Homo sapiens: one gene and its partner. The protein of the gene in region 1 interacts with the protein of each later gene in a pairwise test. Each region holds a gene or a part of one and is shown in the gene's direction. Other genes may lie near its edges.

Region 1 (7,022 bases):
ATATATTATGCAGAGGCTTTCCTCCTTCCCAAAAGGTTTGTTATCTTTAAATTTGGAAGTTAATTCATGAAAGAAACGTGTATTATTTATAAAAAAATTTTTTTAGCATCTAGTAGAAAATATGTTATTTAAAAATGGTATTTATGCTTCCATGGAGTCAATGTGCATAGGTCCCCTGTAATCCTAAAGTCATCCCTATACAATAATGAGAACTTCTCTGTCAGGGAGGAAGGGGATTTTAGTCCTGAGTGTTTTCATCATTCATTTCTCCCTAGTTTGGAGAAATGTCTAGTTAGTTTAAGGACTGAATATTGAATTTTTCTGCTTAAAGAATATTGGTTCATCTTCTACCTAAGAAGTAGAGAGTTGCTAAAATAGTTGATTATTTATTTTATTTATTCAGCCACACTTTTGCTATTTATTACTTCCAAAATTGACTTTACTGGATATATAATACACGCATCTATTTATTGTTGTTTTGATAAACTTTTCATTTTGGAAAAATGTTATGTTCACTTTTGATGTTGCACATTTTATAGATTTTAACAAATGTATAATGACAGGTGTCCGCCATTATAGTATTGAGCAGAGTAGTTTCACAGCCTTAAAAATCCTGTGCTTCACCCTTGCATCCCTCCCTTCCCTCTTGCCCCAGGCAAGCACTTATTTTCTTACTGTCTCCATAGATTTGTCTTTTCCAGTATGTCATACCGTTTTAAAGAAAAAACTTATTCATGACATTTGTTGAAGAACAGTAAGGCAGATTTTATTCAGAGGGACTACTACAGTAGGGTTTTGCAGTCAAGAAAGAGATTGGGTTTGACTCCTAATATTAAGACAACAAGGAAGAGTGGGCATTTATAGGCAAGGAGCAAAATAAGGGAGTTGGTGGGTGGAAAATTACTAAGAGGAAACATCAGGGGTGGAGCGTGGGGATTCTGGCTAAACTGACCGAACAGGATTCTTCTGAAGGCAGGACAGGGTGATCAGCTGTCACCTGGGGGATGGTAGAGGATGAGGAACCTGATCAGATGTTGAGAGTGGAGGATTCCAGCTAGAGCACCTTAGCAGGAGAGTCTTGCAAAAATTGGGCAATGCAGAGATGGACACGGAAGTGCAAAAGTTGAGGCCTTAAAGGGAAGAAGATTCAAAGGAATTTGGCTGAAGTTTGGTTAAGGATAAACTGTCAGAATCACACAGTGTGTAGCCTTTTCAGATTGGCTTCTTTCACCTAGCAATATGCGTTTAAGGTTCCGCTATGTCTTTTCATGGCTTGATAGCTCATTTCTTTTTGGTACTGAATAATATTTCATTGTCTGGATATACCACAGTTTATGTATCTATAAACTGTGTCCTACTAAAGGACATTTTGCTTGCTTCCAAATTTGAGCAATTATGAATAAAGCTGCTACAGACGTCTCTGCACAGGTTTTTGTGTGAATGAAAGTTTTGGGGAATAATTTTATATTTATAAAAAAGTTCCCAGTATAGTACAGAACTTTCCCTTATACCCTTTACCTGGTTTCTCATTGTGTTAACATCTTATGTGAATGCAGTAACATCTTACTGGTGTGTTGTCCAAACTAAGAGATTGACAATTATTTATTGTTATTATTATTCTTAGACTTTATTTTGATTTCACCAGTATTTCCATTAATTTTCTTTTTCTGTTTCATGATCCAATCCAGGATACCACCTTGTTATTAGTACAATGTTAATTTTAATTTATAGGAGTAGTTTGGTTATGTTGACTTATTAAATATGTTTATAAGACACAGCATATCCTGAGAAAATGAGTGTCAACCTAACAGTTATCAGGAGGCAGTGTTACTTAATGAAATGGACTCATTTAATTATAATGTTATTTAGAATTTTTTTCAAGTTTGTTTTTGTTAGAGGGTCAGATTTCCCCATGTACAGCAAACAGTAACATAAGATTTGTTTTATAAGGTTGCTGTTTCTAAACCAAATACTAAAGCTTGTTGAAAGAAGGTCATTTTAAAGTTGAGCATTTCAAGACCCAGGAGAAAACTGGTTGCAGAGTTGTAATAAAAGCTGTCAGTGCCTAATTTTTCAAGTTGGTGCAAAGGATGAAGTGTCCGGGTAGTTCTCTAATGAGCATCTCCAAATGTTTTGCTGGCAGAAGGACTCCATGAAAGATGACAGAAGAAGTTATTGTGATAGCCAAGTGGGACTACACCGCCCAGCAGGACCAGGAGCTGGACATCAAGAAGAACGAGCGGCTGTGGTTGCTGGACGACTCCAAGACGTGGTGGCGGGTGAGGAACGCGGCCAACAGGACGGGCTATGTACCGTCCAACTACGTGGAGCGGAAGAACAGCCTGAAGAAGGGCTCCCTCGTGAAGAACCTGAAGGACACACTAGGTGAGTGTTTCACCCTCGAGAGAGGAAGCCTTGTGCATTTCAAGGGACACTGTTCGTCTTTCTAGTTAGTTTGCTGTTTCAAAAAAAAAAAAGTCTGTTTTAAAAGTTAATATCTTCCTAGTTGTCTTTTTTAATAATCTAAGAATTAAGAGATGAAGATGGAGAAAGAGGATGTTTTTCATTTCCTGGAGATTCTGGAGTTTGGGGTCCTGTGTATGGAGACACTTTGTGTGCTTGGGACCCCTGCACAGGTATCTCCTTGTATCAAAACGTTAGAGGAGCCTGACTTGGAATTCTCACCTCTAAGTCTACCCAGCTCTGCCAGTGTCGTGACATGAAGTTCTTTCTCTCTTATACAATCCTGTCCATTTGGCCTACGTGCCTAGAGCAGGGGACAGCCAAAGCACTTTTTCCCTCTCTGAAATGGATGCTACATCACACCACAGTCCTGGGTGCCGTTAGCTAAGAGGGCAGCTTTGTGACATCAGAGGCCGCTCCATGGTGGGGGCCTAGTTCAGCCATACTGTTGTCCCCATGTGCCTCTTTTTTTTTTTTTTTTTTTTGAGACGGAGTCTCACACTCTTGCCCAGGCTGGAGTGCAGTGGCACGATCTTGCCTCACTGCAAGCTCCACCTCCTGGGTTCACACCATTCTCCTGCCTCAGCCTCCCGAGTAGCTGGGACTACAGGCACCCACCACCACATCCGGCTAATTTTTTGTATTTTTAGTAGAGATGGGGTTTCACTGTGTTAGCCAGGATGATCTCGATCTCTTGACCTTGTGATCCGCCCACCTTGGCCTCCCAAAGTGCTGGGATTACAGGCGTGAGCCACCGTGCCCGGCTCCCCATGTGCCTCTTGTTTTCCCAGGTGTTGTCAGGTTATGGGCAGTGCCCTCCTGGAGTTACACAAAGTTAACAGTATCCAGTCTTGCCTTTACATGCACACGGAACTGACTTACAGTATTTACTGCCTCAGATTACCTGAGAAAATAATTGCGAGGACTTTTTTGAAGAATGACTCATCTGAGCTGACATTTAAAACGTTGTTACCTTCTTATGAGTATAATGTTGTCTGTATCCAAGACTGCAGGTTATCACTTAAGGGTTTGCTAGTGAAATGAGTTAATATTATCACCTGTGTCACATTTACTTGGGGTTTTAAAAAAATTTCTAACAAGAGGATTTGTTTTCTTTTGGGGAATGGAGAATGAGGAATACGTAGGAAAACTGAAAGTAAAATTATACACCAAATGTGGTGGGTGTTGCAAAATGTTCATCTTTTCTTTTCTGCCATGTTGAAAAGTCTAAACTCCCTCTGCAAAATCATCGAAAGCCTTCATGTATTAGGTAGTATTTTTGTGTATGGATTAGGTTCTTACCATGATTTGGAGAGATAAGTGAGACATGGAACTTCGTATGAATCATACCAGCTCACTGGCCATCGTAGATTCTCAGCCTGATGGAGAAATTTCATTTTTGATTAGCAATATGCTCCTTCTCCACTGAGCTGCCTCCCTTTCATCTTTTCTTCCCCCACATAAGCATGCCACTTGAAAGAAACACTGTTTTATGCTTATAACTCTTAATTAACTGTGGTTACCAAAAAAAGAGGGTAGCATGAATAGAGAAAAACTTGAAGGTTGTCCTGAGCTTTATTTTTCCAATTTCTACCTTTCACCAAAGTACCATCTTTTTAGTGATGCCAAACATTGTTACGTTGTTGACTTGTTGTGTGTCTTCTTTTTTTTTTTTTTTTTTTGTATTTACAAGATTCTAGTAAAGCATGAAGTGCTTAGAGACTTGTAGGAAGTAGAACAAGGCAAGGCGAGTTCTCTGGGTGACCTGGAAATTCCCTTGAAAACCTTGTCAGTTTTCTTCCTCAGTTTTCTAGAAGCAGAAAAGACAAAGCCACAAATTAAAACTATGAACCACATCTTCCGCCCAGCATGCTTAGTTTTTTCATGAGCTGTGATCGGTTCAGCCAATGCGTGTACTCCCAGGCTCTCAGACTGAGCCAGCCGCCCGTCCTGGAGCCGGCACTGGGCCCGCGCCCGTCCCCGACAGATGGCCATCCAGCCCTGCTGGAGCGCAGCGTCGGTTCGAGTAGGCCAATCCCATTTTTGGCGAAAACAGATTGTTAGAAAGCTCTTCCTTAAATAGAATCAGATTTTTACATTTCTTTAACTTTCTTCCTTCCTTTGGCTCTTATTCTGCCCTCTAGGCCTGTGCTGAGTAGGTCAGATCCTCTTCTGTAGAGTGTCAGCCCTCCCATAGGCTTGGTCTCAGTTCAGGCAAGCAGTTCTTGGGAAACATTCCTGTTAAGCATTAGCTATTGTAAAAATACAGAAAAAATGATGTTCTGAACCCCTTTATTGAGTATAGCAGTTGATCTTCATAGCCAAAAGGCCCTTGGGGATCAGTATCCCCGTCATGAGGGAGAAATATCCCCATGGTTAGTATATATTTTTTGTTTTGATCTCTTTATCATGCTCACCTGGAGGTTTTTGTTGGACAAAGGGATGTTGTTATCTCAGCATGAGTTTTCCCTTGCCCTGTTGAGCTGCATCCAGTGGAAGAGGAGGCACCCCCGATCAGGTCTCACCATCATGCAGTAACTTCTGTGCACTTCTGTGCAAAGCTTATAGATGTGGCGTTGCCAAGAAGGAAAGTGAGAATGCTTTCCATAGCCCCTCCTGCCTCTCATTAGTTGCATTTGTGTGTGTTTGTGTTTTGTTTTTTGTTCTTTGTTTTTTGGGGTTTTTTTTTTGTTTTTTTTTTTGCTAAAAAGATAGGAGCCAAAGTGTTCATGGCTTCCTATTACTGTTGGTGATGATAATTAAACAGGTATACCATCAGAATGACAGTATGACTTTAGGCCAATTGTGCAGCCTGCAGAAATTATCCCTGCTGTGTATTAGGCATGGAAACAGCATCAAAAGTACACCACATGTATACTGACCACGGTTTGTTTTTGTTTTTGTTTTTTGAGACAGGGCCTCACTCTGTTGCCTAGGCTGGAGTGCAGTGGCACAATCCCTGCTTACTGTAGTATTGACCTCAGGTGATCCTCCCACCTTAGCCTCCCGAGTATCTGGGACTACGGGCATGCACTACCACACCCAGCTATTTTGTATTTTTTATAGAGACAGGATTTTGCCATGTTGCCTGGGCTGATCTTTAACTCCTGGGATCAATCTAGTAACTCATGGCACCACCCACATTTGCCATTTTTACTGCTTTGGGAGTCCACCTAATTCATAAATCCATGGTAAGATTCCTTCCTGCTTTGGAATAAAATGGCACCGGCCTCCCCAGCAAAACCACAGTGTTGTGTATTGCATCTCCAACTGTAGATTACCCTAACTCTGTGTAGTTCTCTCCTGCTTTCTTGTACTCATTTGCTGTCCTGAAGTTGTTAATAAACTTAATTTTGTCACATACAGTACTTTGTTAAGAGTAGCTTGAGGAAAGACGTGAGAACCTTTGACAAAAAGCTCTCTCATGAAAGTATTTACCTGCTTTCTTTCTCTGCAATAATTTAAAATTGATAAAAGCAACCTGAGCTCTTATTTTCACATGGGCAAAACATTTGTATACTGGATCTCTTCTCATATTCAGCTTATGATCATGAATAGTCAGAACTTTGCCACAGATAACAGGGAACAATGATCAAGAACTGTTTCTGCTGGCAGAATCCAGTTGATGTTTTTGAAGGGCTCAGACTGCACAGCTCTGAGCTCAGTGGAGAGCGGTCCTGGGCTGAGGTCTGGCCTTAATACTGCAACTCCACTTAGAAAATTGTGCAGGCGAGGTGTTGTAAAAGCACTATGCTACATCTTTTGAGATGGGGAAGCTGCTCCCAGGGAGGTATTTTTCAAAGATTTTCCCTCAAGCTACTGAAGAGCAGTTTTTTGTTACTACTTTATGACACCAGCTGGAGCCTTGCAAAGCCCCAAAGGTTAATTCTCTTTTCGGTGGTTAACATAGGCTTAAGGGCTGACTCACATTACCCAAAAAGTTACGGTTCCATTTACAACCTGATCATATCCTCAGGAGGGTTTGTTCACAGGCCCACCTGCCCGTGGCTCACCCTGCCACCCTACCTACCTGGGACTTCTGCATCCAGCGTCACCTGCCCCAGGGCTCACTCCTCAGCATTCCTCCCAACAGGACCACACCTAGGCCTAGCGTGGTTAGAAACTTGCATGATCAGCCCCAGAACTCCTGCCTCTGATCCAACCCAGACCTGGGAGCACAGAGGCTACTGAGAGGGCTCCCTAATGCTAACTGTGAAACAGCCTTTGCACTGGTTTGAGCTGATGCTTTTGGATGGGGACAGGGTGGCTGGCACCCGTGGGTGAAATTGACAGGGTTCTGAGAGGCATATCCCTGCTAGGATCAACTTTGGAATTGAACTGATCAAAGTCACAAGGAGTACAGCTGTAGGATTGTTACGTAAGATCCAAAAGCAGTGAAAAGCAACACTTGGTGTTAGAATTAAGATTACAGTACTCTGGAGGGAGGGAGGCAGAGCCTCAGTGAAGGTACAGGGGCTTCTGTCTTGGTGATCTGCCCTGGGGTCTGTGGGGCAGGCTCACGGGCACACCTGCCTTGGAGGAGTTTGCAAAGCTGACTG
Region 2 (7,871 bases), about 69 Mb from region 1:
GGATTATTCCTTTGTTTCTGCTCTTTTAAATCAAATAATTCCCATATTTTAACATTTTGAAAATAGATTCTTACAACTAATGCATATCTTTAATCTGGTAGTGTTTCTTTTTCACCCTAAAAATCTATAAGGAGTCATTCTGCAGTATAAGAAGGAATAATGTAAGTTTTAGAACTGCGGGATGCAGTATTATAAAACACCTTTCCACTACTGGGGAAATACTGCACCATAACAGGTAGTCATGGAAACACAACTTGAAAAACCAGAATTATTTAAAACTTATGTTGCCATATTTTACACATGCCACTGTTGCACTGATTCAGTCCATGTTGACTGGGGGCCACGGCAGGAGGCTGTGATTCTTCAGCACTTTTTCTACACTGGCTAGACCTACATTATTGTTTTATAATCTTCTGCCTGCTCTTGGTTTTTTATTTCTATAGATTAATATGGAGGATTCTTTATGTGATTGGTCTGCGAGCCTATTGGTTATTGTTTTACTCTGTCATTAAGCTCAGACTGATGCATATTAAATGGGAAAGAGATACGCATTTAAAATTCTCTTTAAGTCCAGAATTGTGATTGTCTTTATTCATCCAGGCTTTCAATCCACTTATCTCAGGCCTTTGGTTATAGTATAACAACCTCTCCCATCCGCATCACAGCCTTTCTCTCCACCCTCTTTCTTCTGCCTCTTCTTGTACTTACAGAAAGGAGGTAGGTGGTATCACCCGAACCTGAAATGAGGCTAAAGACATTAATGGCGCTGGACAGTGGAGTGGAGCCCAGGCTTTGGCCACTGCTCTGCTGCTGCCAGCTGTGTGACATGAGCAGGATGCCTAACTTCTCTGGACCCCTGTTTCTTCCTCTGTAAGTGGTGATGTAGACTTTGATCTCTGCAAGTCTCCTGCAGCCTTAAAGTTCTTTTCTTTTTAAAGAACGTGGCTGCTGGAAAAGCTGACACTGAGCTGAGAACTCCGCTTCACTGCGGAAGGCCAGACAGCACTGTTACATCCAGCACCTGTGGGTCATCCACTGCAGAGGTGGCTTCCAAAGCCTCTGAGGTCAGCAGTGTGGTTGTAGCTCTCCTCTACCCACCACATGATCTCTCCCCATCTCCAGCTTTTCTTGCCTTATTTTCTTTATCTTTTTATTTCCCCCCCTTCCTTTCTGATTGTTCTATTTGTTTTCAATTTTCTTAATCCATTTTTCTCTTCACATTGCCCAATGGTGTAAGCCACCTGCACTGCATAAGACTCTGCCTGCACTGCCAGGCCCACTGATGGGCCAAGGGTTTTACCTGCTGACCTTTTCTCTGGAAAATTTCCCTTTAACAGCTTCTCCCAAGAAGGCTTAAGTCTAGTCTTGGCATTTGTTATTTACCATTTCAGGGGGAACAGTCTTAAGCTTTTAAAGGAACATTATGCTGGGCAGCGTGGTGGTTCACACCTATAATCCCAGCACTTTGGGAGGCTGAGGTGGACAGATCACTTGAGGCCAGGAGTTGGAGACCAGCCTGGCCAACATGGCGAAACCCCGTCTCTACTAAAAATACAAAAAAAAAATTAGCCAGGCGTGGTGGTGCACGACTGTAGTCCCAGCTAGGGAGGCCAAGACATGAGAATCGCTTGAACCTGGGAAGTGAAGATTGCAATGAACCAAGGTCATGCCACTGCACTCCAGCCTGGGTGACAGAGTACGACTCTGTCTCAAAAAAAAAAAAAAAAAAAAAAAAAAAAAAGGAACATTATGCTGTAGTAGAATTCGTAAGAAACATTGATTTTCTTTTCCATTCAACAAACACTATTTTCAAACACCTGCATTAGATGCTGAAGCAACAGCAGTCAAACACCTGCATTAGATGCTGAAGCAACAGCAGAAACAAGATGGACAAGGTCCCTGCTCTCATAGAGCTTGAATTCTAGTGGAGAGAAACATACAAGTAAATAAACAGATAAATAAGACAGTGTCAAGCGGTGACGCATGCTATGCATAAAAGAAAACAGCAGAAATGGGTCATGAGGGAGAGCATTTTTGCTGACATTTGAAGAATAAAAAGGAACAAAAAGATGAGTGTACCAGGCGTGAGTACCAGGCTTGCAAGTAAAAGGCCTGAAGATGCAAATGAGCTTGGTGCATTTAAGGAACAGAAAGATTTGGAAGGTAAATTAGCAAGGCAGAATATTACTTGAGATGAAGGCAGAGAGTTAAGGAGGGGCCAGATCTCGTGGGTCCCTGTGGACCTAAGAGTTTGGACTTTTTAAGTGAAATGAGAAGTCATTGGAGGGTTTTAAGCAGGGGAGGAACATTATCTAATTTATGTCCTAACATGCATAGTAGACACCTGATAAATGTGTCCAAAGTTGACTGTAGGAATAGACTCAAACTACACAACTACTCCCTTGCATGTCTTGGGGACTGCAGCCTTCTAGGTGACATACTCCCTTCTAAGTGAGCTTTTCCTAAGGTAGGGGTCTCCAACCAGTCTATGGCCCCTTAGGAACCAGGCCACACAGCAGGAAGTGAGCAGCTGGTGAGCAAGTGTTCCCTCCTGAGCTCTGCCTCCTATCAGATCAGCTGCGCATTAGATTCTCAGAGGAGCAAGAATCCTAAAGTGAACTGTGCATGCGAGCTCCTTATGAGAATCTAATGCCTGATGATCTGAGTTGGAGCAGTTTCATCCTGAAACCATCCCCACCCCCTGCCCCCACTCCGTGGAAAAATTATCTTCCACAAAACCAGTCCCTGGTGCCAAAAAGGTTAGGGACCACTCCCCTAAGGGATGGAAATAGCCATGAATGGTATGTGTACTGAGAGAGAGAGAGAGAGAGAGAGATAGCTAGAGAGAGAGAGAGAGAGAGTGTGTGTGTGTGTGTTTGGGGTGTCTTACTTAGAGAACTTCAAAATAATTCTGAAAATACGTAGAGAAATTGTCATATCGCCCATGTTCTCTTTTTAGACCCAACTATAATTAGACTTCCCCAAAGATTCACTCAGGCATTTACTTAATAGTTGATCAAGTTTTCTGTTTTCCTGAGGGTTTGTATCGCGGGAAGTGGCTGATAGCTGTAGGCCTCCACCTCTGTCCAGCCCCATGCCTGCAGGTATTTATTTGTGACCTAAGTCACGGGTGGACACCAGGCCAGAGTTAGACAAGAGGCGGTCCCTGCCTTCAAGGGGCTCCAGGCAAAGCAGAGGACTCTCAGTCACTTATTCTTGGGTACTCCACTCCAGGAACTGTGCCCATGGCCTGGCATCATGAATCTGCTCATGCAATTAGACTCCTATCTCAGGGAATTTTGAGTTTAAAAGATCCTTAGACATCATCTGTCCCAGTACTCCCCAGTAGGAGCACTTCTGGTATTTTGGGTGGGACTGTCATAAGCACCATAGGAAATTTCCCATTCCTGGCCCCACCCACTGAATGCTACAGGCCCCTGCCCCCACCATTCCCACTCACTGCTCACCACCCCCAACAGCTACCTGAGTTGAAAATTACTCATCTAGCCCAGTTCCATCACTTTACAGGTAAGGCAATGTTAGACAACATACGTTCTTTTCATGCCTCTGGCCTCTGATCCTAGCAGAATCAGGACCCAACATTCAGATTTTACAATGAAGCTAGTTTCTGAAATATGCCTCTCTTTTAAATTCTTTGACTGTTACTGTTTTCTCAGAGTTATATACTATGTGTTGCATATGTAAGTCTGAACCTTTAAGATGGGTTAAGAAAAAATTATGAGCATTTTCAGATCGTTCTATACATAACTCAAGGTTTTGATAAAATGTTTTCTACATGTATTCCATTGCCATCCACCTCTTGAGTTCTTTAATAATGAGAAATCTGACTTTCTTCCTTCCACCCTCTTTATCTCTATGCTTTTGTCAAGCATCTTCTAGGAGAGTTACTGTTATCCCATTAAGTGTGGGGGACAGAAACATTTGGCATAGAAAGCTATGGATCTGCAGCTGACTTAAGCTGTATATTATTACCCTGACTTGGGCACCAAAATCACGTTTCAAAACTCATTTGCTGCCAAGTATGGTAGCTCAAGCCTGTAATCCCAGCAATCTGGGAAGCTAAGATGGAAGGATCACTTTGAAGCTAGGAGTGCAAGACCAGGCTGGGCAACAAAGCAAGATCCCATCTCTACCAAATATAAAAATAAAATAAATTAGCCAGGTGCAGTGGCATATGCCTGTAGTCTCAGCTACTCAGGAGGCTGAGGCTGGAGGATTGCTCGAACCCAGGAGGTCAGGGCCACAGGGAGCTATGATTACGCCACTGCACTCCAGCCTAAGTGACAGCAAGACTGTCTCTCTAAAAAAAAAGAAATAAATAAAACAAAACCAAAAAAAGAACCTCATTTGCCTTCATACACCTGACCTGCTCTCTTTACCTGCATTTGTAACTTTCTCCCCACACACTTGAATGCCCTGTAAATGAGAAGAAGCCCTTAGCCTAATGAAGCGATAAGGTAAGGTAGGTAAGAGCTTTTCTTTCTTGAGTGACTCTTTTCCCTATTACTCAATGGAATAGTCAGTATTTACAGTGATACTTTCAAATATAATTTTCCTAAAGGAATCTCAAGTTCCATGAACAGTTATTTTTGTGGGAATATCTAGAATAAAGTTGGACTCTTCACTGAGTGGAGGTGCTCATCTCCTCTTGTCACTGTACCAAATAGCTGTGTATTACACCTTGTGGGGAGGAGAAACATTTAATTTTTTTTAATTTAGGTTTTTTTTCTTGCTTGCTTCTTAAGCAAAACCAATCTAGTTTCTTTTTCTGCAGCAAAGGAGGAAGGAACAACAAACAACAAATTAATCAGACAGGAAGCGAATAACCACAGAAGGACGTCTGCCTCTGACTCAGTATGTCACATTTAACAAGAGGCCAGAGCTTGTCCAAAATGGCTGTCCAAAAACGACCCCACACTTGCGTTAGAAGATGATACCTTTTTCAGGGACAGTTTTCTCTCTTGGCTCCTGTCCCGCTGGCCCTCTGTCTGCCTGTGTCCCTGACCATGGCTCCCTGCAGTACCCTTTAACGGTAAGAAAAATTATATTCAAACTAAGTTTATTTCATTTATCAGCTACAGGGAAGAACTAAATGGCTTTTAATGGACCATAGTATGTCAAGATAAAGTTGTTTAATTTTTCTGTAGAGCACCATGTGAGCTATTCCTGTTGCCCAGAATGCTAGTTTCACCACTATGGTGATTGTGAATGATTCATAACTTATGCTTTGAGCCAAAATGTAAGCAAGATTTTCAATAGAATTTTTTTGACCACTGGACAAGTTTGGATCCACAGGAATTTATTTTCCCATTTAAATTGGGGGCTTATGTCGGTAAATATATCCTTTTGGTGTATGATACAGTTGTCCACACAACTGCCTTTGAATCTTTGGTGTGGCCAGCAACAATAAGTGCTTTAAAGTACAAGGAGCCATTGGAAGCTTCAAACGAAAATACCATGGAACTAAGCTGTTGCAGTTCTGTTGCTGCCAATGTGCTATTTAAGTTCAAAACTCAAACTAAACCATTTCTAAGCAGAGTCTTTTATAATACGATTTGTCTTTTAGAATAAGTCTATTCCTGTTATAACAGTGTGTGCACAATTACTATCGCAAATCAAATTCTACAGCATTAGTTATAACTTTATGTTTAATATGATTAATGTTTTGGCATAAAATATTGTGATTTTTAAAATTTCAAGCCATCTACTCAGAGGCTTATAGAGCAGAACTAAGGAAACTTTTTACATTAAAAAACTTTTTTCTAGAATATGTAGGAAGAAACAATTTGACTTATGTTCCTTTCTCCCCGTGAAGAAATATAAAATAAAGCTTTAAAAAACTCAGAAGGCACATATAACTTTAGTCACTAAGTACAAGTTTTTTGTTTTTTTTGTTTTTGTATTTTTAGTAGAGACAGGGTTTCATCATGTTGGTCAGGCTGGTCTCAAACTCCTGACCTCAAGTGATCTGCCCGCCTCGGCCTCCCAAAGTGCTGGGATTACAGGCATACAAGTTATTTTAAATAATTTAATGGCATAACTAGTATATGTAGTAGAGAATGGAGAGGTGGTAAATGAAAAGGCTACTGAAAGATTCTAACTAAGCAAAGTAAGACAGCTTGGTAGAGAGAAAGATGAAAGACTGGGGAAAGAATAGGACAGGACAGTGAGAAAGGAAGATGAGAAACTGGGAAAAGGTTTTGAGGTTGATCTGTGTGGAAATCATACTCTTACAATTCACTTGGACTACAGTGCTATGTGTTAACTTTATCAAGCTTTGTTCTTCTGTACTGGAATATCATCATGTCAAAACTCTTCCTTTTATCAGTCTAAGGTCATTAAATGACTTACCTGAAAGTCATTTTTCACTAAGTCAGGTTTTCTATTGCTCTTTGAAAAGTTTATTCATGGGCTATTTGCTCATAGCGCTTCAGCTACTCTAATATCTAACCTTTTAAGGGTTACACATACTCTGGGTGGACTGAAATATTCAGAGAACTCCCTGTGGTGAAAATTAGTTCCTGGGATCGAGCAGCAACTTCAGATCTGATCAAATTCTAAATCTGGCCTGTAGGCTGGAAGTTCCCCAGCCTACCTAAAATATGAGATGAAGTGATACTGAATTCCTGGACCCTTTAAGTGTTATGACCTTTTGAAGCCTTCTTAACATTTTATGAACACACATCATTTACTTTGGAAGTTTCTGGCTGTTTAAATTATGATATATTTCTGCTTTAAGGTTTGACTCATTTTGTCCAAATTGTTAAACATGTGCTTGTTGTTGAAGAAAGCATTTCTCCTGGACTTCCATAAATACCTCTGTCTGTCCTGAAAATTAAAACTGTAAAAAAATACTAGAATAAGGAATGCCTTAATCAGTATGCTTTTCTGAGAAATTTGAAATGCACTTTATACACATCTCCCTTCACCATTCACTTGTAATATGGAAGTTTGCATGGGTGTACACACATAGGCTGATTTAAATCAGCTCATGGTTTCTCTTTCTCGTGGTTAAATAGGGGGAAAGACTGTGATATTTACTGACCACTTATTTTGTGTTACGTTCTTCACCTTTGCTTATTTTATTTTTTGAAAATGGCTAATACTTATTAAGCACTCCTTCATTTAACTCTTGAATAACCCTACTAAGTAGGTGCTATTATTTTGAAAACCGGACTTACATAAGCTAAGTAATTTACCCAAGGCCACCTAACAACTAAATGTGGAGGAAGTTATCTGAATTGTAAGAGCTTTTTTTCACAAGTGCAGCTTGGAAGCAACATTATAAATTGTATGATTTCTGTTTTTCTTTTTCTTTTCTGTTTTTTTTTTTTTTTTTTTTGAGACAGGGTTTTGCTCTGTCATCCACACTGGAGTGCAATGGCATGATCACAGCTCACTGCACCCTCAAACTCCTGGACTCAAGCAGTCCTCCCACCTCAGCCTCCCAAGTAGCTGGAACTACAGATGTGTGCCACCATGCCCAGTTAATTATATATATATATATATATATATATATATATTTTTTTTTTTTTTTTTTTTTTGTAGAGATGAGGGTCCCACTATGTTTGCCCAGGATGGTCTCAAACTCTTGGGCTCAAGCTATCTTCCCACCCTGGCCTCCCAGAGTGCTGGGATTATAGTCATGAGCTACGACACCCAGCCAGTATGATTTCTTGAGGTGCTTTTCCGGCCTTGGGAATCTGAGATTACAAATGTTTTGCTTTAAATGTCACAGCAACAGTAAATATCTTTAAAACTAACAATCTCAAGTAAGATATTTTCCTTTTTAAGTCTTTTCACTTCTTCAGAGGTAAACTTGGTGACACTTCTGCTTATATCATAAAGCT

What was found. Proteins that work in one complex are often made in the same cells at the same time.
Region 2: the proteins of NCK2 (region 1) and WIPF1 interact in binary tests that used the Homo sapiens proteins (3 or more experiments, as listed by UniProt).

What each region holds. Positions count from the first base shown.
Region 1 is NC_000002.12:105,852,905-105,859,926, forward strand, and holds part of NCK2 (cytoplasmic protein NCK2), read left to right. Parts: intron 1-2,143; 5' UTR 2,144-2,159; coding exon 2,160-2,385; intron 2,386-7,022. UniProt on the Homo sapiens protein: Adapter protein which associates with tyrosine-phosphorylated growth factor receptors or their cellular substrates. Maintains low levels of EIF2S1 phosphorylation by promoting its dephosphorylation by PP1.
Region 2 is NC_000002.12:174,594,783-174,602,653, reverse strand, and holds the start of WIPF1 (WAS/WASL-interacting protein family member 1), read left to right. Parts: upstream 1-4,849; 5' UTR 4,850-5,053; intron 5,054-7,871. UniProt on the Homo sapiens protein: Plays a role in the reorganization of the actin cytoskeleton. Contributes with NCK1 and GRB2 in the recruitment and activation of WASL.